7 linked regions of the Homo sapiens genome follow. The protein of the gene in region 1 interacts with the protein of each later gene in a pairwise test. Each region holds a gene or a part of one and is shown on either strand. Other genes may lie near its edges.

Evidence for each region.
Region 2: the proteins of ERG (region 1) and TARBP1 interact in a two-hybrid assay, tested with the Homo sapiens proteins (one large-scale study listed by BioGRID and IntAct).
Region 3: the proteins of ERG (region 1) and ZBTB44 interact in a two-hybrid assay, tested with the Homo sapiens proteins (one large-scale study listed by BioGRID and IntAct).
Region 4: the proteins of ERG (region 1) and RNF111 interact in a two-hybrid assay, tested with the Homo sapiens proteins (one large-scale study listed by BioGRID and IntAct).
Region 5: the proteins of ERG (region 1) and ZMYM2 interact in a two-hybrid assay, tested with the Homo sapiens proteins (one large-scale study listed by BioGRID and IntAct).
Region 6: the proteins of ERG (region 1) and EXOSC9 interact in a two-hybrid assay, tested with the Homo sapiens proteins (one large-scale study listed by BioGRID and IntAct).
Region 7: the proteins of ERG (region 1) and MYO5A interact in a two-hybrid assay, tested with the Homo sapiens proteins (one large-scale study listed by BioGRID and IntAct).

What each region holds. Positions count from the first base shown.
Region 1 is NC_000021.9:38,397,478-38,400,977, forward strand, and holds part of ERG (transcriptional regulator ERG), read right to left. Parts: intron 3,169-3,500; coding exon 3,097-3,168; coding exon of another isoform or gene 2,885-3,096; exon of another isoform or gene 2,595-2,884; intron 1-2,594. UniProt on the Homo sapiens protein: Transcriptional regulator. May participate in transcriptional regulation through the recruitment of SETDB1 histone methyltransferase and subsequent modification of local chromatin structure.
Region 2 is NC_000001.11:234,427,180-234,430,679, reverse strand, and holds part of TARBP1 (tRNA (guanosine(18)-2'-O)-methyltransferase TARBP1), read left to right. Parts: intron 1-378; coding exon 379-593; intron 594-1,002; coding exon 1,003-1,264; intron 1,265-1,355; coding exon 1,356-1,544; intron 1,545-2,913; coding exon 2,914-3,104; intron 3,105-3,291; coding exon 3,292-3,363; intron 3,364-3,500.
Region 3 is NC_000011.10:130,308,418-130,311,917, forward strand, and holds part of ZBTB44 (zinc finger and BTB domain-containing protein 44), read right to left. Parts: intron 2,058-3,500; exon of another isoform or gene 1,763-2,057; intron 1-1,762. UniProt on the Homo sapiens protein: May be involved in transcriptional regulation.
Region 4 is NC_000015.10:59,078,163-59,081,662, reverse strand, and holds part of RNF111 (E3 ubiquitin-protein ligase Arkadia), read right to left. Parts: intron 728-3,500; coding exon 379-727; intron 1-378. UniProt on the Homo sapiens protein: E3 ubiquitin-protein ligase. Required for mesoderm patterning during embryonic development. Acts as an enhancer of the transcriptional responses of the SMAD2/SMAD3 effectors, which are activated downstream of BMP.
Region 5 is NC_000013.11:20,059,727-20,063,226, reverse strand, and holds part of ZMYM2 (zinc finger MYM-type protein 2), read right to left. Parts: intron 2,175-3,500; coding exon 2,003-2,174; intron 382-2,002; coding exon 256-381; intron 1-255. UniProt on the Homo sapiens protein: Involved in the negative regulation of transcription.
Region 6 is NC_000004.12:121,807,823-121,811,322, reverse strand, and holds part of EXOSC9 (exosome complex component RRP45), read right to left. Parts: intron 1,357-3,500; coding exon 1,224-1,356; intron 1-1,223. UniProt on the Homo sapiens protein: Non-catalytic component of the RNA exosome complex which has 3'->5' exoribonuclease activity and participates in a multitude of cellular RNA processing and degradation events.
Region 7 is NC_000015.10:52,522,381-52,525,880, forward strand, and holds part of MYO5A (unconventional myosin-Va), read right to left. Parts: intron 1,823-3,500; exon of another isoform or gene 1,802-1,822; coding exon of another isoform or gene 1,703-1,801; intron 1-1,702. UniProt on the Homo sapiens protein: Processive actin-based motor that can move in large steps approximating the 36-nm pseudo-repeat of the actin filament. Can hydrolyze ATP in the presence of actin, which is essential for its function as a motor protein. Involved in melanosome transport.

The sequences.
Region 1 (3,500 bases):
GCCCCAGCTACTCGGGAGGCTGAGGCAGAAGAATCACTTGAACTCGGGAGGCAGAGGTTGTGGTGAGCCGAGATTGCACCACTGCACTTCAGCCTGGCAACAGAGTGAGACTCCATCTCAAAAAAAAAAAAAAAAAAAAAAGAAGAGAAAAGAAGATAAAAGAAAAGAAAAGGTAGGTTGGGGCAGTAACCCAGGGATGGGTGACTCACAGTGGGAAGGGAAGGAGGGAAGGGTGGTGAGGAAGTGCTGGGAAGGTGGATGCAGCAGGACAACACACATGTGTAGGAGTCTCTGCAGAAAGGGTGCGGAATGCTGTCTAATTTAACCAGTAAACCCTGAACACCACTGTCTCCTCTATCAGGGACTCTATAATGAAACGGCCACCATGCAGAGAAGAGACAGATTCTGGTCTAAGTAGAGTTGTTACCTAGGAGCCTGGCTTGCTTCATGGTCAGCACAATAACGCTGACCAGAGTTCGGTTCCCTCGGATGTGGGATTAGACAAAGGGTATGGAAATGAAGATCATGGCACAGCAAACCAAGAGTGGAGGAGACAGGGATTTGGGTCTGTATCCCCAAGGACCTTCAAAGAAACAGTCAACAATCACCTTTCTGAAAGTAGTCAGGTACCCACTGACCACAGGGATATCGTCAGATTCCCAGTGACCTCCCTCTGGAGCTCGTTCAGCTCTGAAAGTTAGTGATGCAAAAGCTCTTCCCCCTCAGCCATCACGACGTTCATTCTCCAGTTGCAGGTTCACAGCTTTTATCTCCACAGGAGCAGTCCTTTAAGGTTGATCGCTTAGCAATGGATGACCCGAGGTGTATAACTAGTTCTTATCTCCAAGTTCAAGTCCCTGAATAGGGCCTACAGTAAATAGTCCTCTGGCTTGTTCAGTCTGCTTTAAATTCTTTACAGGTCAGATACCAATATTTGTATTGGTTCTCATAATCACAGTAGCAGTGGTCAAAACAGGTTATTTCAGGTACAAACTGAGTCGCGAAAACATACTTGACTAGTAGTGGAGCTGTGGAAGTGTGCTCTCTCCCAGGTCACGCTCAAATTATGGGCCCATGGAAGACCACCATCAGAGCGGCATGGGAGGTGTCTGAGTTTGCCACCCTTGCCTTCCCTGGGTTGGGCAGAGAGGGAGTCCCAACCAACATCCTCACAGTCACCCTCTTCTCCATCCACCTGGATGGGCCATACCTTCCAAATCCACCATATCCTAAAATGTGAAAACAAAGCAGCTCCAGGACCCACTGTCTTAACCAGGTAGCATCAGTCAGCTGGCTTGTCTGACAGAGAGATTGTGCCAATGAATTTGGCCAGTGTTGTGATCTTTTAACACAGTTTATAATACTAGCTCACAACCCCTGGCTTTGCAACTCAGTCAGAGGCACCTATGAGATGTCTTAACATAAACAAACAAATACAAAATTAAAAAGTAAAAAAATTTTTAAAACCCTAGCCAAATGTTTTGGAAATAGTTTTTATTTTTTTAGTTTATATGGAAATATTTTTTAAATGCTCACAGAATTACAAAATCTCTAAAGCTTGAGTCAAACATGAATTTCTATTTTCCACTCGCAATACACGTGGTGGATGTCTTTAGGACCAATCTTGCAGACTCTAGGCACTGGGTCTTGCCCATGTTTCAATGGCCTGTGAAATCTTTTACATGACAGAGATGACTTACTACCTCTTAGTACCCCTTAGCTGCTAAGCCTTTCCATCATGCTTCCCAGGAGCAAGACAGTAAACTTTTTCTCTGACGTTAGAGAAGAGAAAATTGCCAGCCTGAAGTCACTAGGCAGTAACCAGGGCAGTGTCAGTATTTGAACAGCCTGAGAAGCTTCCTCATTCATTCTCTTTAGCTCCCTGGGCCCCCAGTCTTTCTCATTAGAAAGAAAGAGTAGTTGCCAAGCCTAGATCTTGAACCAGTTCGAACTGAGACTTGTGTATTCCGGATATGTGATAGAGTTTAACATGAATTCTGGAAGCATGTATGAATATGGAGAAACCATCCCACCACCCTGAACACAATGTCATCAGCTGTGAGGCTGGTACAATGATACCTAGCTTATCGGGCTGATGTAAGTCCCAGGGAGAGGACAAATGCTAAAGGCAAGCTATACCCTTCTGGGAAATGCCCTCTCTCCCTGCTCATTATTCGTCTGGCAAACATCTAATTCCCCTTTGCCATGTGGCCATTCCTCTGGAAAGCATCTTTATGCCTTTCATGGGGGATTGAGTTCCTCCCCACCCCTGCTCCTACGCCCTGTATTGCTAGAAGTGGTTCCTCTACCATAAAATCTATCACATTAGGGAAAACATTTATGTGTACATATGTGTCTCTCTGGCTCTAGGTCACTCTACTGAAACATCTAGAACTGGAGGCAAAACATTTCGGTTTGTTCACCATCATACCATCCGTGGCTGGCACAGAGGAGGCACTCAGCAAATGAACAAACCAAGCTGAATGAAGAAGTAAACTTTCTGAAGACAGGAAGCTTACTGAAGCCTGGTTCATCTATATATTCCCAGAGTCTAACACCACGCTTGGCACTAATGGGCACTTGATAGATGTTTATTTTTGCATGAATGGCATGTAAATTTATTACCTAATTAAATCATTTGGAGGACAGGCAGTAAGATTCAGATGTAAATACTACTGGTTGCATGCTTCTGCTCTGCAAGACTGGCTTCTTGTGACATACTGATAATCGGTCACTGTGAATCTGGGGAGTGTCCTTGTTTTGTGCTCTTCCCCCGAGGAGGGACAGATCCTTCTGTTAGTTCAAAAGTCGGCCTATTCCTAACTGCCAGGCATCCAGGATGCCTTCTTTGCCCATCTGTCTTTCTGAAAAGCTAGTTAAAGGGCTAATCTGCTCTTAATTCCTTTAGTGTGGTCTTTGAATGAAATGGTTTGAGTGGATTTAGTCTCCAAATCAACAGAGGCAGAATAAGACTGTCTGGGACTGGCTTCAGCTCCGGGATCAGCTCTCTTTGTATCACGTGACTTAGGGCACGGATCTCAGCAGGACATCTGGGATGTCTCTCAATGAAGAGATCACACAGGGGTGTTTTCGTACCTGGCCTAGTTGTAATTCTTTGCGTAGCTTCAGGATATACTGAAGTATTTGGGAAAATAAAAGCTGCACCCCCTGCAGACAAAAGGAAAGACAAACATGTGAAGGTCTTTTGTTGTGGTTGTCGATCTCAACATCAGCGCCAAATCTACTTTTCCCTATGACAACAAAGGGAAGAGACCTCCTCAAACCTGCCTTAACAGAGCTCCGGAGAAACAGACAGGTGCACCTGTCAGATTCTCAAGATGGAAGTGAAACTTGGAGCCTTGGTGTACTCCTGTGCCCCGTTTGCTATAAAGCGTTTTGTGTTTTGATTTTATAACTTCTTGATGAAGCCCTATCTGTGTCCCCCTCAATCCCACTTCCCACTGGGCAATCTCGTTTTATTAAAAAATTATATGGTACAT
Region 2 (3,500 bases), on another chromosome or scaffold:
TAGGAATGCTGCATGCAGATGTGTATGCGAGTAGGAGAAAGGTCAAGAAGGACTTACACACAGCTTTGGGTTCTGTACGTAGCGAATCTGTCATGTACTAGTTCCAGGTACCTGTTTACCAGATGAAAAGATCCCATTGTTGTCTTAATCTAAATTGCTGAGTTCTTATTGCTACTTTAAAATTGTTCACTGCCAATCTGTAGAGAAGTAGTGGAAGTGAATGATGTGTACTGGATTTCCTTTTATTTCTCCTGATATTCAGGAGCAGGCAGGAAGAGGGAAAAGGAGAGCTTGAGCTTTCCATAGACTGGCAACTGAGGTCATTACTGATTAAGACTTGTGCATATTAAATAAAACATTGTCACATTTCCTTTTCAGGAGCCAACAGTTGGAAGTCAGATTCAGAGAGTAGTGAGCATGGCTGCCTTGGCCATGGTGTGTGAGGCCATAGACCAGAAGCCTGAGCTGCAGCTGGACTCTCTCCATGCTGGGCCCCTGGAAAGCTTCCTTTCCTCTCTTCAGCTCAATCAGACGCTGCAGAAGCCCCACGCAGAGGAGCAGAGCAGTTATGCTCACCCCTTGGAGTGCAGCAGGTACAGGGAAGGTTAAGGCTTAAAAATCCATTTCTGTTGTTGTCACCGTGAGTTCATGATTGCCCAACATTGCTTATAAAGTTATAGAATTTTGGGGCTGAAGCTCCATTCAGGATGAAAGTGTGGTATAACATTATTCATCTCTGTTACTGGAGACTTGCTGACTTTTCTGCATCTAGTTTTCACTGAATCATTTCAGATGAGCAAAAGTACCTACTTTCAGAGAAGTTAGAAAATTAAGGTTTATGTGGTTTCCTTAGTTTTTGGTAGATAGGCTGTTTGATAATGACCATTTATATCTGTACACTGCCCCCCCCCCCCCACCTTTAGAAAGGATAGTGTGCTACGTGCAAAAGACGTGGAGGCAAATTGGGGAAGTATGGCCTAGTAACTTTATTTTTTATTTCAGTGTTTTGGAAGAATCGTCATCTTCCCAAGGATGGGGAAAAATAGTTGCACAATATATTCATGATCAATGGGTGTGCCTCTCTTTCCTGTTGAAAAAATATCACACCCTTATACCAACCACAGGGAGTGAAATTCTGGAACCGTTTCTACCTGCCGTTCAGATGCCAATAAGGACTTTGCAGTCTGCACTAGAAGCCCTCACAGTTCTTTCTTCTGATCAAGTTTTACCAGTGTTCCATTGCTTGAAAGTGTTGGTTCCCAAGGTAAGATAGAGTGAAACATGAATTGAACAGTAACTATAGGAGTGGCGATCAAGTTTTTGAAATAAGTATGTATTTTTTTTTTTCCTACCAGCTTCTGACTTCCTCTGAATCACTCTGCATAGAGTCTTTTGACATGGCGTGGAAAATTATATCTTCTTTAAGCAACACTCAGCTGATATTCTGGGCTAATTTAAAAGCTTTTGTTCAGTTTGTTTTTGATAACAAAGTTCTTACCATTGCTGCCAAAATCAAGGGCCAGGCATATTTCAAAATAAAAGAGGTAACTAACTTTCTTTTCTTTTTGCTTTTCTTTTCATGTGTGTGAGCTTCAGCACATGAGGAACATGAGAGTTGTATTCACAATTAGATTTTTGGCTCTTTATTCCTTCAGTCAAAAATATTTTTGAACCTTCTTAAATATCAAGAGTAAGAATGAGAAAATCTGACAGATGTAGAAGAGAAGGTACAAAACGGTAGCCTGGAGCCACATCTGCCTCAGAAACGGTTTGTTTGGTTCATACAGTGTTTAAAATTTTGATTACCTGGCAACTTTTAATTGTTGGGAAATCTGGCCAGGCGGGGTGGCTCATGCCTGTGATCCCACCACTTTGAGAGGCTGAGGCGGGCGGATCACGTGAGGTCAGGAGCTCGAGACAAGCCTGGCCAACGTGGCAAAACCCCGTCTTTACTAAAAATACAAAAATTAGCCAGGTGTGGTGGCGCACGCCTGTAATCCCAGCTACTCAGGAGGCTGAGGCAGGAGAATTGCTTGAACCCAGGAGGCGGTGGTTGCAGTGAGCTGACATCACGCCACTGCACTCCAGCCTGGGCAACAGAGCAAGACTCCATCTCAAAAAAAAAAAAAGTTGGGAAATCTGTATGAAAAACTGGATTTCTTGGAAATGAGGTAATCTAGCAACACTGGTCATTCTTCCATGACAATGTAATTGATCGCTCGGTTGAGTAGGAGTTGGCATGCTCTTTCCACAATCAGTCTCATTTCACCCGGATACTTGAAGGCAAATGTCAGGCGCCATTTGTCATTGCACTTTGGCTGAGGTTTTTTTTTGTGTGTGTAGAGAAATATTTTTCTGACTGTAACCCTTATCAAAAGGTCTTGCTGGTTTCTGGAGGTATTTTCATTTGCAGCTACTGAGATAGGAACATACCAAGGTGGAGTTCCAGTGTACCTCCTGATCCCCAGGGGAACAGGGAGAGTCAGATTCCGTTATTTCTCTGCAGCCCTGTGCTGCCTTTCTTGGTCCTTTTCTGCCCCACAGTACATAGTTAGAGACGCTGGTCTTTGCTGCCTCAGCCAAAGGAAGGCCACTGGCAAAATGCAAACAAAGGAAGCTGAATGTGTGTGGGGTGAGGTGTTTTTCCCCTTTGATTCTACTGCTTTGGCAGTTGTTTCTCTTGAAGAGTCCTGGATGAATATCACTATCAGTAAAATTTTATTTATTTTTATTATCAAGAGATGAAATAGCATTCTCTGATTATTGATCATCTCGCAAAGTTATTCTAACAGTAATGAATTTAACAGTTTTTAGACTGTTCATGATTATGTTGAAACTAAGTAACAGTTTTTAGCAGCACTGATTTTTTAAAAACTAAATCAAGGATAAAATGACGGTTGTATTTTATTCCAGATTATGTACAAGATAATTGAAATGTCTGCTATAAAGACTGGAGTCTTCAATACACTGATAAGTTACTGCTGTCAGTCTTGGATAGTGTCTGCTTCAAATGTGTCCCAAGGATCTTTATCAAGTGCTAAAAATTATAGCGAACTTATCCTTGAGGCTTGTATATTTGGAACTGTGTTTAGGCGTGATCAAAGGTAAAAGATGCTATTATTTCAACTGGTCATAACTTGTATTAAGTGCCTACTTGGGTATAGAATTATGTCTTTGTTTTGAGGCTTTCAATTAAAAGAATATAAATTATTAGTTAACTTTAACCTTGGGGATTTAATTTTTTTTCTATTTAAAACCTGTTGTTCTTTATCAAATGTTTTTTATGGAAAGACTTGTTCAGGATGTACAGACCTTCATAGAAAACCTTGGACATGACTGTGCGGCAAATATTGTTATGGAAAAGTAAGTATGGTAGATTTTCTCTGTCTTCACATAAATGAGATACTAAAAATTTAACATCATATGACAAACATTCTGTATTTGCTAAATTTAATAAGTGACATCTAATATATTAATAAGATGGGATGAGCCTTTAAAAG
Region 3 (3,500 bases), on another chromosome or scaffold:
CAGCCTTGAATTTGAAACCTGGGTCGGCCACTTATTGTGATACTCTAGGCAAGTCATTTAATGCTTTTAGATACCAGTTTCCTTACTGCAAAATAAGATACTAGTAGCAATGTCAAAGTGTTAATGTGAGATTTAAATAAGATAATGTATAAAATGTTTAGCACAGCTGGCATACAGAAAGGGCATAACAAATGTTAGCATTATTATCAACACTGTATTAGTTCATTCAGCCTACACAACAGGTTCTAGCTGCTACATGGCTACACATACCCATGCAACTGTTTATAGTATTCTTCTTCATCACCTTATATGTTCTAAGAACCTTGGGTAGTGTATGTATTTTACTGAGATTAAAGACAGAATGAGGGTGAATGGGTCCAAGTGCAAGCATTCTCCATCTTCCCACTCCACTCCCTAATGGAACTAGATGTTCACTCTGTTATTGAAAGCAGTGATTGTGGAGTCCTAGTAAGGGAAAAGGAGTCAGGCGGGTGGGAAAAGGGTACAGCAAAAAGAAAAAGCAGATAAGGTATAAGTCTGCCTTTCTTCATGGTCCAAGACACACAGCCCTCTTGCACAAATAACTCACAAGCTTTCTGCACTCAACTTATCACCAGACTCTCAGCTGACAGAAAAATGCAAGTTAGCTCACTGCAACCTTGGCCTTATCAGTACTGCACATAGCCCTCTCTGCAGCACACAGCAGAAGCATCATCCTGTAACATGCCCAGCAAGCCATTGTCTCCTGGCAGTCAGCTTCTCTCTTGCTGATCTGCCCGTTGCACCCTTGCAACCAACCTACTTTCATACTTTCTCTAATAAATCTGCCCTTCTTTACCTACAATTGCCTTGGTAATTCCTTTACCACCTGCAACGCCAGCCTCAGCTAGTGTGACCTATGACAGTGAGGATGAACACAGGAAAACACACTACAGGCACAGTTTTGCTTTTCAGCACTTGGTTGACAGGAGGCTGATAAACTGCCTAATTGTGCTCTGCTTACTTTAGATGAACACTGCTCCCTCTTAAAACTTCATTTGAGATCACATAATTATGAATTTATATCAAATTTGGTCCAACCCAAACAAAATGTGTTATCTCCACTGATCACATATCCAAATGCCTTTTTATCTGTACATAGCATATTTATGCCAGTTTTGTTGTAGATGGAGTCACCTGGGCGCAGTGGCTCACGTCTGTAATTCCAGCACTTTAGGAGGCCAGGATTACACTTCAGGAGGCCGAGGCAGGTGAATCACTTGAGGTCAGGAGCTCGAGACCAGCCTGGACAACATGGTGAAACCCCATCTCTACTAATACAAAAATTAGCTGGGCGTGGTGGTACATGCCTGTAATCCCAGCTACTAGGGAGGCTGAGGCAGGAGAATCGCTTGAACCCAGGGGGCAGAGGTGGATTGCAGTGAGCTGAGATCGAGCCACTGCATTCCAGCCTGGGCAACAGAGGGCGACTGCATCTCAAAAAAAAAAAAAAAAAGTTAAAAAAGTAGATGGAGTCATAAAACCTCTACCAACTACCTGCCTCTTTAAAGACATGATTTAAGTAAAAGCTACAGTTCTATTTTTATGGAATTTTTATTTAAAAATATGGTATCTAGGCCTACGGCTACAGGCTTACATGTGTAATCTTAGCACTTTGGGAGGCCAAGGCAGCAGGATCACTTGAGCTCAGGAGTTTGAGAGATCAGCCTGGACAACATAATGAGAATCTATCACTATTTTAAATCACTATTTAAGAAAAAGAGCTGGGCGCAGTGGTGTGTGCCTGTAGTCCCAGCTACTCAAGAGGCTGAGGCAGGAAGATCCCTTGAGCCCAGAAGTTCTGGACTGTAGTATCCTATGCCGATTGGGTGTCTGCACTAAATTAGGCATCAACATGGTGACCTCCAGGGAGTGAGGGACCACCAGGTTGCCTAATGAGAGAAGTGGCCCAGGTCAGAAACAGAGCAGGTCAAAACTCCCGTGCTTATCAGTAGTAGGATCACATCTGTGAATAGCCACTGCACTCCAGCCTGAGCAACACAGTAAATCCCCCGTCTTTAAAAAAAAAAAAAAGTAAGCATGGAATCCACTTCTCTGCTAACTTCTAAAAACTAGTCTTAGTTCTCTTTGCCAGAGGAAGCAGAATCTAATTTTAAAATTTAAAAGTACTTCTATGTGGCTTCACATAACATAATTTGTCTATTGCTAATTCTTCTGAGCTTGATGTGAGAATGTAGTAGATACTAAAAGGAGTATGGTAAAGGTAAACAATACTTCATCTTTAAAAACTAATTTTAATGAGGTTTATCCAAATATAGTTTTTTTTTGTTTTGTTTTGCTTTTGAGATGGAGTCCCGCTTTGTCACCCAGGCTGCAGTGCAATGGCGCAATCTTGGCTCACTGCAACCTCCCCGGTTCAAGCAATTCTCCTGCCTCAGCTTCCCAAGTAGCTGAGACTACAGGCATGTGCCACCATGCCCGGCTAATCCAAGTATAGTTTTAAAACATTATTTTGACTTCTACACTATGTACATACTTTACATATTCAAAAATAAAATCCTAAGTAAAAACTGAAACCTATGAACCATATCAAATTGGTAGCATAACCAGAGAAAAGTATTTCAAGTGACTTTTGAACACAGTACTCATTATACATTCTTCATGCAATATAGTCTAAATACGAAAATAAATGCAAAGAAATCTTAAACTACATGAAGCTTATTGGTATTAGCAATACCAGCACTATAATTTTAAAATGATTTTATGTATACAGTGGGAGAAAGCAAATAAGTTTATTATTTTTTTTGGAGACAGGGTCTCACTCTGTCATCCAGGCTGAAGTGCAGTGGGGTATGAACATGGCTCACTGCAGCCTCAACCTCCTGGGCTCAAGTGATCCACCTGCTTCAGCCTCCTGAGCAGCTGGGAACACAGGCACACACCACCACGCCTGGCTAATTTTTTTATTTTTTATAGAGATGGGGTCTCATCATGTTGCCCAGGCTGGCCTTGAACTCCTGGGCTCAAGCAATCCTTCCACCTCGGCCTTTCAACGTCCTGGGATTACAGGCATGAGCCACTGTGCTTGGCCAGTTTATTAACTGTATTAAAAACCAAGATTTTCATTTAAGACAAGAGACAAATATAGAGTCAAGGAAGAAAAAGTCTGCTTGTTAAATAGGAATTGGAATATCACTCTGAACTCATGATTAAACAAGCAAAAACCTTTTTCTTAGTTCTCTCCTCTCAAAGCACCTAGAAGCAATGATACTGCAGCAGCAACGAATATGCCAAACATCCAGAACTTGGTTTCTATATACGATTTCTCATTAAAAAGAACCAAGACTCCCTGGATAAACAGCTCTTTCCAGAGGTGAGCAAAGAAAGTATAAGATAAACCCTGGAGTAACTCGTGTCAGAAAGCACTCCAAGATTAATGGGGAGCAGGGGTGTCAAGACACACAATAGTCAGCTTGAAATGGTTCCTACTGACCAAATCT
Region 4 (3,500 bases), on another chromosome or scaffold:
CAGCTTTGAACTCCTGGGCTCAAATTATCCTCCTGCCTTAGCCTCCTGAGCAACTGGGGATTACGGGAATGAGCCTCACCCAGCTTATAGTTACAAGTTACATTATTTCTAAAGACTTCATGGTTTTTTTTGTTGTTGTTGCTGTTCTTTGTTCTTTTTTTAAAAAAAGAAAACAACAACAACAAAAAACAGTATTTCACTGTGTTGCCCAGATGGACTCAAACTCCTGGGCTCAAGCAATCCTCCTGTCTCAGCCTCCCAAGGAGCTGTGACTACAAGTGCATGCCACCATGCCTAGTTGGATTTCAGAGTTGTAAAGACCAATGGAAGTAGAAGAAAAAGCAAACTTGACTTTCTTTTTAAAAACGTAAAACATACGTTGGATGCTGCATCATCCTCCTCCTTTGAACTTCCATCCTCTGCATCACTTCATGAGGATGCAGTCTCTGTGCTGGAGGTGCTGTGGCTGGAATATGGTGCGAAATTGGCTGGTGTGTAGGAGGAAGATGCTGAGGGATTGGTGCAGCTGTACTGGCTAAGTGAGTTGGTGGTGGGGGTGCCACAGGATGAGATGTTGCATGAGAAGATATTTGAGAATGGAAAGCATGTACAGGATGAGGAATAACATAATCCACTTGAGGCGGAGGCTGAGTCTGAGGAGGGGGGTTTCCATGAGAATGCGGGCAGGCAGAAGCTTGATGATGAAGTGGCCTTGTCAAAGAGGCATCTGCAAGAAAAATATTTTGAGTATGTTACATAGGCACCATGCAGTTGAACATATATTGCTATTATACATTCCTAGTGTACTTTTAAACATATTAGTATTTTATTTTTATGAATACTTTATCAAGTAAAGTATTCAAGCAACTGCTCAAGCAACTTGCTCCCTTCTTACAATAATCTTGGATATCTTATGTCAATATATATATTATAGTTTAACTTCACTCACAGCTTCACAACATTCTATTATATGAACACACCAAAATGTACTGACAAAATCCCCACTGATAAAAAAGAAACCCAAATGCTATGATAAATATCTGTGTATATGCTCACTCCTGCACTCACTCTTTCATTTACACACATGTATACACACATATATAGAGATCATTTCTGTAGCATAAATTCCTGTAAGTAGTTGTGGGACAGAAAGAAAAAAATAAATTTAGATGCCAGTTAATAAAAATACCCTTTCCAAAAGGTTGCCATAATTAATATTTCCATCAAGAGTACACAGGAAGGGCCAGGCACCGTGGCTCACACCTGTAATCCCAGCACTTTAGGAGGCCAAGGTGGGCAGAGTCACCTGAAGCCAGGAGTTCGAGACCAGCCTGGCCAACATGGCGAAGCCCCGTCTCCACTAAAAATACAAAAATTATCCAGGCATGGTGATGCACACCTGTAATCCCAGCTACTAGGGAGGCTGAGGCAGGAGAATCGCTTGAACCTGGGAGGTGGAGGATGCAGTGAGCTGAGATCATGCCACTGCACCCCAGCCTGGGCGACAGAGTGAGACTCCACCTCAAAAAAAAAAAAAAAAAAAAAAAAGGAGCACACAAGAAGGCCTGATTACCCCCACATTACCACTAAATTTTTAAAATAAATGCCAATCTGAGAAAAATCTTTTATTTCTTGACCGCTTGTATGTGTTCTCAGAATTATCTATTTACATGCTTAGCCTATTGTATTACTCACCTTTTTCTTATTGACTTGTAAGTATTATTTGCATATATGGAAGCTCTGTCATAATAGGGTGTAAACATTTTTCCAAACTGTCTCTCTCTCTCCCTACCCCATGTCATTATTCCTGTGCTACATTAAGGTGAAGGAGACCTATTTGTTTCCCATCAAATATGGACGTAAAGTCCTTAATAAGATGGCTCCTACCATTTCTTCATTCTACATCTTTATGTTTCAAAGTGACTGCTGAAAAATCTCTCTGAGGAATACACATCTTCCTTACTCTTAGAGATGTGCATCTACTTGACATGTAAAAAAAAAAAAAAAGTTTGTCTTAGATTTCAATACAAATTTCATTTTATTGGAAGATGTTCTTGGAAGTCTGATATAGACCAACAGCCATTCTCTAGTTTCATTACAGAAGTTTTCAATTTTTAATGCTTTTGATTCATTCAGCAAGGGCAGAAGTTAGGTAACAATAACTCAACTATATTTTCAAAGTATGCCTTGTTAGCATGTACTTAAAGGAAACTTTCAACAAATCTAATTTTTAAAAGTTGCAAGACAAATTTTTAAACCAATTTTCTAAAAGTTCTGTTTTCAAATCAATGCTTTACTCTTCAAGAAGGCACAAAGCTCAGTAGCTAGCTCTTAATCATAAAAAATGAATCCACTATGTTTTATGATTGTTAACTATCCTTTCTCAAATTCACAGCATTTTTTCTAGTTGCAAAGTTTTATATTTGTGTAATCATTATACAACATTCACAAATATTACAAAGCAAGAAGTTTTGTTTCAGAATGAGTCCATTTATTTAACTACTCTTTAGACATCACTTTAATTCACTGTTTAAACAAAACAGGTTGCTGACCATTTTAAGAGTGACATATTCCACATTCCCAAAAACCCTTTCCCTTCCTCTATTTGTGTTCCCAACAGTTAAAAAAAGTTCTTGATATTGTTTCCTAGACGTTCAACATATCACTTGCAGATGTAATACTATGCTTTATTCCAACATTTACTCACTGCATTCCCATAGCTTTACAGTGTAGACCATTTGCTTTATGATTAATCGTAAGTAGCCTTACCTATACCTCTCTTTTTTTTTTTTTTTTCTTCTTTTGAGAGGGAGACTCGCTCTATCGCCCAGGCTGGAGTGCAGTGGTGTGATCTCAGCTCACTGCAATCTCCATCTCCCAGGTTCAAGCAATTCTCCTGCCTCAGCCTCCCGAGTAGCTGCGATTACAGGCACCTGCCACCACACCCGGCTAGTTTTTGAATTTTTAGTAGAGACAGGGTTTCGCCATGTTGGCCAGGCTGGTCTTGAACTCCTGACCTCAGGTGATCCACCCGCCTCGGCCTCCCGAAAGTGCTGGGATTACAGGCGTGAGCCACTGTGCCTGGTCTTTTTTTTTTTTTTTTTTTTTTTAGAGACAGGTTCTCACTATGTTGTCCAGGCAGGAGTACAAGGATTGTTCACAGGTGTGATAACAGCACACTACAACCTTGAACTCCTGAGCTCAAGCAATCCCCATGCCTCAGCCTCCTGAAGAGCAGGAACTACATGCTCATACTACCAAGCCAGGCCTTACATATCTTCTCAATACATCTTATTAATAAGATAGTAAAACTTTTAAATAATAGCATTTCAAGTACAGTTGTTTTATCACTTCATCAAGACCACAAACCTTTCAAAAGCAGAGAGAGACATATTCTTACTCCACAAGTATTGTTGTTATACATATAAATGTACTTATGAAACAGCAAACTATTCATCTGGATCCAAGTATCACAATTTATAGCCAATAGGAATTATTCC
Region 5 (3,500 bases), on another chromosome or scaffold:
TTCACCACATTGCCCAGGCTGGTCTTGAACTCCTGGACTCAAGTGATCTCATTCCAGAAGTTAACTGTTAAGGTGGGTTTTTAAAAAAAAACAACAACAAAATATGAAGTTAACTCTTAAGGTGAGTTTAAAAAATAACAAGAATAAAAAATATGAACACTGCTAAAAGGCAATGACACAAACATCAAATGGTAAATGATCATAACCACAGTTGACTCCATAACTAAATTCCATAGTCATAAAGGTTTTGAGTACCTCTGGGAAAATCTATTTCGATATCCAAATCTGGTTCATATGGTACATCAGGCATGCTGGACTGTGTCTCTGGGTCAGAGTTCTTCAAAAGGTCTGAACCAATTATATCTGTTTCAATAATTACACCTGAAATCAATCCATATTATCATTAGGAATCAAAACAGAAAACCCCAATGGTATCTGTATTTAATCTGGCAAAAGCAAGTCATTTAATTTTAAATGCAATATAAAAAAATACGTATAATGTCACAAAAGAAAAGGGCATATTATATATATAACTATCTCAAAATGTAAACCACTATAAACCTCATAATTAGTCACAAGCACATGAAAACTTTTAATCCTATAAATTTTACAGGAGGACTCCCTTCAAAAGCTAATAGGTATGCTTTGATAGTAAAACAACTTCAACAAGTAAAGTATTTCTAAAAGCAACTTTTTGTCAAAAATAAACTAATGAGGGTAGACAACTGTAGTTTTCAATACTCTTTGAATTTTGACCCAGGTTTCTCAGATTGTTCAATATATGCATATTAACAACTGCCTTTTAATGGTTCGATCAGTTGCTTTCAAGTGTTTTTGTGTTGTAATCATGGCAAGAAATGCATTTTATCCAGCACATACTGCAAGGTGATGGTGGGGAACAGAAAGACATCTGTATACACACTGGTTTCACAAAATAATACTTACCCTTTCTATGAGGGATTCACACTGTCATTTCTCTTACCCTATTCCACTTAGCTTTTTCTTTTCTTAAACAAAAACACTGGTTGCAACCCACTAATTTCACAACTCCTTACCACAGTGCTTCAAAAACACTGTCTCATTATTAAATCCAGAGAAAATTATAGTATTTTGATTGTCCTCTAGGGTAAGGGTAAGAATTAGCTCAAGGTTGAAATAGGACTTTGGGTATCAAGAGAGGGTTAAGGGTGGAAAATAAATATTCTAAGTGACTTAGAACCATCCACAACACACTCATCACGTTATACCATGTAGCGCAAGCACTGCCCTAACAGAGGTTAAGATAAACTCTGGTTTAGATAATGCAAATTATTTTATTAGTATAAGCAATAAAAGAAAACTAGGGGCTGGGTGTGGTAGCTCACACCTGTAATACCAGCACTTTGGGAAGCAGGTGGATCACCTGAGGTCAGGAGTTTGAGATCAGCCTGGCCAACATAGGGAAGCCCTGTCTCTACTAAAAAGACAAAAATTGGCTGGGCGTGGTGGCACGTGCCTGTAATTCCAGCTACTCAGGAGGCTGAGGCAGAAGCATAGCTTGAACCCAGGAGGCAGAGATCTCAGTGAACCGGGATCATGCTACTACACTCCACCCTGGGCAACAGAGCAAGAGTTCATCTAAAAAAAAAAACAAAACAAAACAAAAAACTAGGGATAACTATTACAAAATAAGAGTTTTGATCATCATTAGAGTCTACTACAAGTTATTATAGTTTTGCATCAGCACTACTCCATTAACAAGAATAATTTTGAGTTGATTTTACAAGTCAAATCCTGCTTAAAACAGAGACCAAAGACCAAATTCCTGCTTCGGATATCTGTCTGAGGGCACCTGGCTAAATACAGTGTAGATCTCTTAATATAAAAAACATTTTTGTTACAATGCTTTCCTCACCCCCACATAAGTTGAAACAAAATGATATGCCCTGGAAAGTACTGTAACAATACTTATAAATAACCAATGTTAACACTTATTCGCAAGGTATAATTTAGTGTAGCTCACTGTTGATGTTGGTTGTCTCTGTTTTCCCCTCGTCTTCACTCATCATATCCGTCATTGTAAGCAACTCTGTATCAAGAGCATCTGAAGAAACCTTGCTTTTTAGCTCCTCAATTGCTGCAGGAATCTTCTCACTGCTGTCCAATGGAGCAGGCAGAAAAACAGGAACTGGCACCTAATTAACCAAATCATTTTGAGTTAGGTTTACTAAACATTAAAAGGTATTTTTCCAAATTAAAAATTACTCTGACACATGATCTACTTTGTAATATCACACTGGATAAAAGCTTTGAAAAGAACACATACAAAACTAAGATGTTAACTGTGATAAGAAAGCCTAGAATACAAGCATCTACTTTTTGGAATTCAAATTAAAGAAAAAGAATTTTTGAAGTATTTCTGTCCCCCAGGGGACTATAATAGCCAAGCCCTGACACAGTGTTCTTCTAAGTACTGCAAGTGATTTGGGATAAAATAATATTTTATATGAAATTCTATGTTTCAGTTCTAAACCTTATGGCTTCACAAATATTTTTCTTTTTTTTTTTTGAGATGGAATTTCACTCTTGTTGCCCAGGCTGGAGTGCAATGGCGCTATCTCAGTTCACTGCAACCTCCGCCTCCCGGGTTCAAGCGATTCTCCTGCCTCAGCCTCCCCAGCAGCTGGGATTACAGGCATGTGCCACCATGCCCAACTAATTTTGTATTTTTAGTAGAGAGGGGGTTTCACCATGTTGGCCAGTCTGGTCTTGAACTCCTGACCTCAGGTGATCTGCCCATGTCAGCCTCCTAAAGTGCTGGGATTACAGGCGTGAGCCACTGCACATGGCCCACAAATATTCCTTTTGAAAATGAACCCAAATATAAACTTAATATGCACAGAGCAGGCACAGACATCCGCGAAATGTCACTCTCGAGGATGAACATATACATACTATACACAAAGCAATCAATCATGACAACAGAGATTCAACCAAATCTAAGTTAACTGTCGAAGAAAGGTAAAGATGGTTTTATTAGCTTCATTAAACTAGTAACTGCAACTAGAGTTATCCTCAGTATTCTAGGGGATTGGTTCCAGGACCACCTGTGGATGGATACCAAAGTCTATGCATACTCAAGTTCCACACCCCTACAGTCAGCCTTCTACACAGATTTCACATCCTCAAATAATTTTTTATTTTCATTTTTTTTGAGATAAGGACTTGCTTTGTAGACCAGGCTGCAGTGCAGTGGTGCAATCACGGCTCATTGCAGCCTCCATCTCCCAAGCTCAAGCAATCTTCCTACCTCAGCCTCCCAAGTAGCTGGGATTACAGGTATATGCCACTGTGCCTGGCTAATTTTTACATTTTTAGTAGAGACAGGGTGTCACCATGTTGCCCAGGCTGGTCTTGAACTCCTGGGCTGAAGATACGCCTACCTTAGCCTCCCAAAGTGCTGGGATTACAGGCAGAATACTGTATTTTCAGTCTGTGTTTGGTCACGGATGTGGAACCTG
Region 6 (3,500 bases), on another chromosome or scaffold:
TATGCTCCAGGATGCACTAACTTCCTTTTTCTGTGGGTAATCTGGGTAGTACTTGTGATGCTGGTAAAGATGATGATGATGATACCAGAAACTAACATTTATTGCACACTTAATAAATGTGTGCTAGACACTGTGCAATATATTTATATCCTTATAACAACAAGGTGTTGGCAATAACATCATTCCCTATTTTACAGATAAAGAAAGTGAGACCCAAAGATATAAAATCATTTGCCCAAGATCAGCTAGTATGGGGGCAGAACTAGAATTCAAACTAAAGAAGCTTTTAATCATCTACACTGTATGCTATATGGAGATCTATTTTCTAAAAGCTCCCATGTGAATATGATATATAGCTGGGTTTCAGAACTACTGCCAATTGTAGTTCTAAAAGTGCAAGTAAAACTATCTTTTTACATAATGTCTACTATTGGATGTTTAAAAATTTTTATTTGCTTTTGAGACAGGGTCTCATTCCGTAGCCCAGGCTGGAATGCAGTGACACGATCTCAGCTCACTCAACCTCCACCTCCTAGGCTCAAGCAATCCTCCCACCTCAGCCTCCCAAGTGGCCAGGACCACACGCATGCACCACCAAGCTCGGCTAATATTTATTTATTTATTTTATTTTTTATTTTTTCAGATGGAATTTTGCTGTTGTTGCCCAGACTGGAGAACAATGGCACGATCTCAGCTCACTGCAACCTCTGCCTCCCGGATTCAAGCAATTCTCCTGCCTCAGCCTCCCAAGTAGCTGGGATTACAGGCGTGCGCCAGCCACCACACCCAGCTAATTTTGTATTTTTAGTAGAGATGGGTTTCACCATGTTGGCCAGGCTGGTCTTGAACTCCTGACCTCAAGTGATCCACCAGCCACGGCCTCCCAAAGTGCTGGGATTACAGGCGTAAGCCAACATGCCCGGCCACTTTTTTTTTTTTTTTAATAGGGATATAAATCTTTTTCTTCACTAGACCCTGCTTCTAGGTGGAAGGGTCAGACTCCAGCAGGCCAGACACGGGAGCACCAAGGTAGGAAGGAGGAGGATACCTCATAGCCACCAGTCAACAGAATGTATTTAATAGTGACAGTACTGAAACCAGATTCTAACACATCCTAGAATAAATCACTGGAAGTATCCCCATTGGATTTTTGTTAAAAGACAAGAAAAAGCATCTAAAGAGAAGCAACCTATTATTAATGGGACATTAATCAAAGCACTAACTTGATCTTTTAGTAGCATTATCCCACCACTGGACTGGATAGTACAAATCTCTCGATGTTTGTTCATGGCAATCACCAGCAAGCCATCCATCACACGTTCTTCTCGTTCATTGGGATCCACCAATAAATATGTTCTGAAATGAATGTTAAATGGACCTGAACAAATCTGAGACCGAATGCTTACCATTTCTTGGGTAATGAATTTTTAAAAGATGGCATCAATAAAGTCAACAGAGAATAAAGGTCTGAGCCTACGGATTTGGGTCACTGAAATGGGGAAAGAGACAAGAAAATTATTGTGTTTATGAACACAAATGAATGCTAAGTGGGTATCTCTAGTTATTACAATGAAATCACATTAAGTTCAGATTGGATTTACTTAAATGATATATAATCTAAACCTAATGCTATCTCTTTGATTAAATGACTTCTGGCTCATTAATAAAAACTTAGATAATGTTAAATTGGTTAACCCTAAAGTTGCCCTAATGTCCTGTACTCCAAAGTTCTACTGCGTTCTGCTAATGGCTCATGAAAAAAATACTGTCTATTTCTGCACTGTCCGGTACATTTGCCAATAGTCACCTGTGGTTACTGAGCCCTTGAAATGTAATCAGAGTATGTAAAATATTGGATTTCAGAGACTTAGTGGAAACAAAAGAATGTAGACTATCTCATGAGTAATTATTAAAATACTGATTATTTCATTAATCATTTTATTTCATTAACGTGAAAATATATTAATTAAAAATATATAAAAATTAATTTTACCTTTTTAATGTGACTACTGGAAAATATTAAATTACACATATGAGGCCAGGCATGGTGGCTCATGCTTGTAATCCCAGCACTTTGGGAGGTCAGGACTGCAAGATCACTTGAGCTCATGAGTTTGGGACCAGCCTGGGCAACAAAGTGAGACCCTGTCTCTACAAAAAAAATTTTTTTAAATTAGCTGGGTATGCCACACACCTATAGTCCCAGCTACTTGGAAGGCTGAGGTGGGAGGATCACTTGAGCTCAGAAGTAGGCTGCAGTGAGCTATGATCACACCACTGCACTCCAGCCTGGGTGAGAGTGAGACCCTGTCACAAAAAAATAAAAAAAAAATTTAAAAAGTAACAAATGCTGCGCATGGTGGCTCAAGCCTATAATCCTAGCACTTTGGGAGGTGGAGATAGGCGGATCACTTGAGCCCAGGAGCTTCAGACCATCCTGGGCAACGTAGTGAAATCCCATCTCTACAAAAAATAAAGAAATTAGCTGGGCATGGTGTGCACCTGTGGTCCCAGCTACTCAGGAGGCTGAGGCAGGAGAATCACTTGAGCCTGAGAGGTTGAGGCTGCAATAAAACATGATCACGCCACTGCACTCAAGCCTGGGTGACAGAGGGAGACCTTGTCTTAAAAAAAAAAAAGAAAAGAAAAGAAAAAGAAACAGCCAGGCATGGTGGCTCATCCCCGTAATCCAGCATTTTGGGAGGCTGAGGTAGCTAGATCACTTTTGAACTCAGGAGTTCCAGACCAGCCTGGGCAATATGGCAAAACCTCTTTTTTACAAAAAAAATACAAAAATTAGCTAGGCATGGTGGTGCATGCCTGTAGTCTCAACTACTCGGAAGGCTGAGGCTGAAGAATTCATTGAGCCCAGAAAGCAGAGGTTGTAATGAGCAAAAATCACGCTGCTGAAATCCAAATTGGGCAACAAAGCCAGACCTCATCTCAAAAAAAAGAAGAAAATAAGAAAATTATATATATGGTTCACATTTTATTTCTACTGGACAATGCTGGCCCATTTTCCTCTGATAAAACTCTACACTTACAATCACTAAAACTTGTAAGTGTTTCTCTAGTCCTTGTGCACAACACTGTGTGAAATATTTTTATCTTCCCTTGTTTCTAAAGGAATTTAAGGCTCAAGTTTTCATTTGAAAGCACCATTAAATGGACCTGAAAAACTCCAAGTTTTCTGCCACAGGAGGATTTAGCAGTTAAGTAATGAAAACGCTGGAAAACTTAAGAACATTAGATTTTTTTCCTCCAGTCTGTGAACCATCCCCCCTTGTAACCGACTCCTAGAACTACTCCATCTAATATGTTCCAAAGTCCCCTATCTTCCAATAACCCACAGTAATTCTCACCCCACTGTCCCAAATTAGAGCCTAGCATATAATTCTCTTAACCACTGTACAGCCTTAGGAAACATAAAACACTACCATGCCATAGTAAATTCCTAAGTTTATAAGTATCCCATGAAAAGAAAAATGTTGGGAAGTATC
Region 7 (3,500 bases), on another chromosome or scaffold:
GCTGGGGAGAAAAGGACAAACTCCCTAGGAAGATAAATAGAATAAGTCTAGGAAGACCACTGTAGGATGGAGGACATGCCTTCAGGTGAGGTGGAAGAAGTGGAATTGCTCACATAATATTTTGTCTATGGCCAGACCTTACTCCACAGATCAGAAGTTTAGACTTCCAACAGTACCTCATACTTCACTGGGAATTGCCTGAAGTGGAGACAAATACATCCAAGTCTATCCTCTAGTGGACCACGTACTCCTGAATTCTCCCAATGGAGGCAAAATTCATCATAAAATGAAAAACAGAGAAACTAAATTACCTTCTGAGGTAAGAAGTAAGGCGGATCATCTCTCCTCTCCCACATTCTCCCATACACGAGTTAGCATTCCCTGTCACCCCTCCCCTGAGGTTACAGTTAAATCCCTGGAAGCCCATTCATAAAGCTTCCTCCAGTTCTCTTTCATTATTTAAAAAAAAAAAAAAAAAGCTAAAAGTACCAGGAAGATCTAAAATATGTGGCAGCAGCAATTCTCATTAGAATCAGAATCTCTCTGTAATCTTTTCTGGACAATACACAAAACTTTCACACTTCAAGAAACAGTAACAAATTTCAAGAGGAAATAATGGGCATTTTGCTTTGTCAAGCTATGTAAAGAAGTATTTCTTAGTAGCATTCAAGTTCCACAGAGGCAGTCAAAATTTGTGATGAAACAGGAATTAATTTTCAGTTTCCAAGTCTGGAGCTACTGGCATTATTTCATACTACTCCTGCTCCTTCCCATCCTATATGTAATCCATCTCGGAGAGACCTGTCTCTCGGATTTATCCTCTTCTTTCCCACACCTTCTGCCCCTGCCTCAGTCCACCAGACCTTCACCACTTCACATTTTGTTTCCTGAAAGTTTCCTGGTCTCCCTGGTTCCCAGTTCTATTACTCATCCTGTTCAACATGCCTGAAAATGTGTTTACTTGTTTAACCACATCTTTATACCCTGCTTCGTCCCTACAAGTGGACTGATCATGCCAAACCATTATTTTCATTCCATCCCTCCCCTGCTTAAGTATTCATTCAACAAATATTCAATGAGCAGCTATTCTGTGTAACACTGGGCTAGGCTCTACAGGAGGTAAACAAAACAGCATGTCAGGGGGCTTAGAGTATCGTGGGAGTGGTAAACATATACACAAATACAGTAACCGTAATAAGACAGAAACATGTTTGGGACATTAAGACAGAGAAAAAGAGTACTAGTGGGAGTTCCAAATCTGAGCTATCAGCTGGATGTCAACTGAAATTAGAATTGATATAGAAGAAGTCGAATGTGAAAGACAAGAAAAAAGATACGGAGGTTTCCAAGCTGCGGAACTAGGAGAACAGCAAGTCGTTAACAGGCCTAGGAACACCAGGAGGAAATTCAAATGGAAAGGGCATGACAGGAGACTTGAGGACAGCTAACATCCTTGCCAAACTCCAAGTCAGGGCACATGATCAGAGATGAGATTTCTGTTCCTCTTTAAGATGTTGGAAGCAGTCTGAGAAATACAGTCTCGACATGAAAATATTAGAATTTCCAAGATCAGTAGTTTGAAGAGACAGTGCCATAGAATATAAAAGTGGATCTATCCCAGAAAAAATCTAGGCCATGTGGCTCCTGTATATATGAGAGGATATGTTGGGAATGGAAAGTTACACATATACAATCTACTGACCTTAAGAGCTGTTTCATCTAGGCAAGTTAACATGCTTTGCAAATGTGGAATTTTAGATTGTCTTTGCACTGTTACAATACTCAGCATCTCAGCACACATGGGAACCTCCTAATCAAACAGCTTCAGGTAAAAACAAAACAAAACACAAAAGTAAACAAAAAAATTAAAACTTTTTTAAAATTAAAAATAAGCCAGGCATGGTGGCTCATGTCTGTAATCTCAACACTTTGAGTGGCCGAGGCAGGAGAATCATTTGACCTGAGGAGTTAGAGATCAGCCTGGGCAACACAGCAAGATCCTGTCTCTGTAAAAAGTACAAAAATTAGCTGGGTTTGGTAGCACATGCCTGTAGATTCAGCTACCCAGGAAGGTGAGGTGGGAGGATGGCTTGCACCTGGGAGGTCGATACTGCAATGAGCCATGTTCACACCACTACACCTCAGCCTGGACAACAGAGTGAGACCCTGAACCTAAATAAATAAATAAATAAATAAATAAATAAATAAATAAAATAGGCTGGGTGTGGTGGCTCATGCCTGTAATCCCACACTATGGGAGGTGGAAGCAGGAGGATCACTTGAGTCCAGGAGTTTAAGACCAGCCTGGGCAACATACTGAGACTATCTCTAGAAGAAATTTAAAAATTAGCTGGGTGCATAGCTGTGGTCCCAGCTACTCACGAGGCTGAGGTGGGAGGACAGCTTGAGCCCAGGAGTTAAAGGCTACAGTGAGCCATGTTCATTTCACTGCACTCCAGCCTGGGTGACACAGTGAGACCCTGTCTCAAAAAAAATAAAAAATTAAAAAAAAAAAAACCCAGCTTCAAGTAATCTTGACCATCCTATAGCATGGATACCATGGTGCTATCCATGGTGTCTGGGAACATGATGACAGGAGGAATAGCATGCCATTCATTATAATGTTCCCGATAATCCTTCTAGGTCTAATTGATAAACCCTACTCCACAAATGTAGAATTGCTTCTAGTTACCAAAAGCACCTATGGATGATGTATGATATAGATATCCACTGGCAAGTCAAGACTAGCAAATATTTTCAAAATCAGAAGCAATGAGATATCATAGTTTCCTTTAATTCTTTTGGGAGCAAGGCAGGTTGACCACAAACACATCAACATACTACTCTGTGAATAAACCAAAAACCATTGAATAGTACACTTTAAATGGTGAATTATATGGTATAAGACACATATCTCAATAAAGCTGTTATTTTTAAAAATCAACAAAACATGTTTTAACCAAAATATTCGTTTCCAGACAAGTATCCCAAGAACCTAGCTATTGTCCTTAAAATGTTTATACTGCTGGAAAAACTTACAAAATGGAAGCCTTGTTAAATTGCTGTGACAAAACCATTACCATTCTGGCTAAAAAGAAGAAATTGAACAGTCTCTTGTCCTTCACTGTAATAGGAACTGATCTGTATCACACATTAAAATCTGCCCTTAAGATCTGAATGACATTTTTTTAAAGAGCACTTTTCAGATTTAACCACAATGTTAAATACCATAATTATGGCATATCACTAATACATCTTTCCTTGTAATCTATCCTAGAACTTCCTTCCTATAATCCTCTGCAAGGGGAAGATCCTTGTGCTTATCCACTGATAATACTTCTAATGATTTTCCTATTCCTCTAGTAATTACAATAGTAGTTTTTATCTCTGGAATCAGCCCAACCTTCCCCATGTCCCAACCCATTCCCTAACTTCTACTAATAAATATCATACCAGCTGTCTGCCTGCTGTTGAGGTAACAGCAGGTTATTTATGCCCCT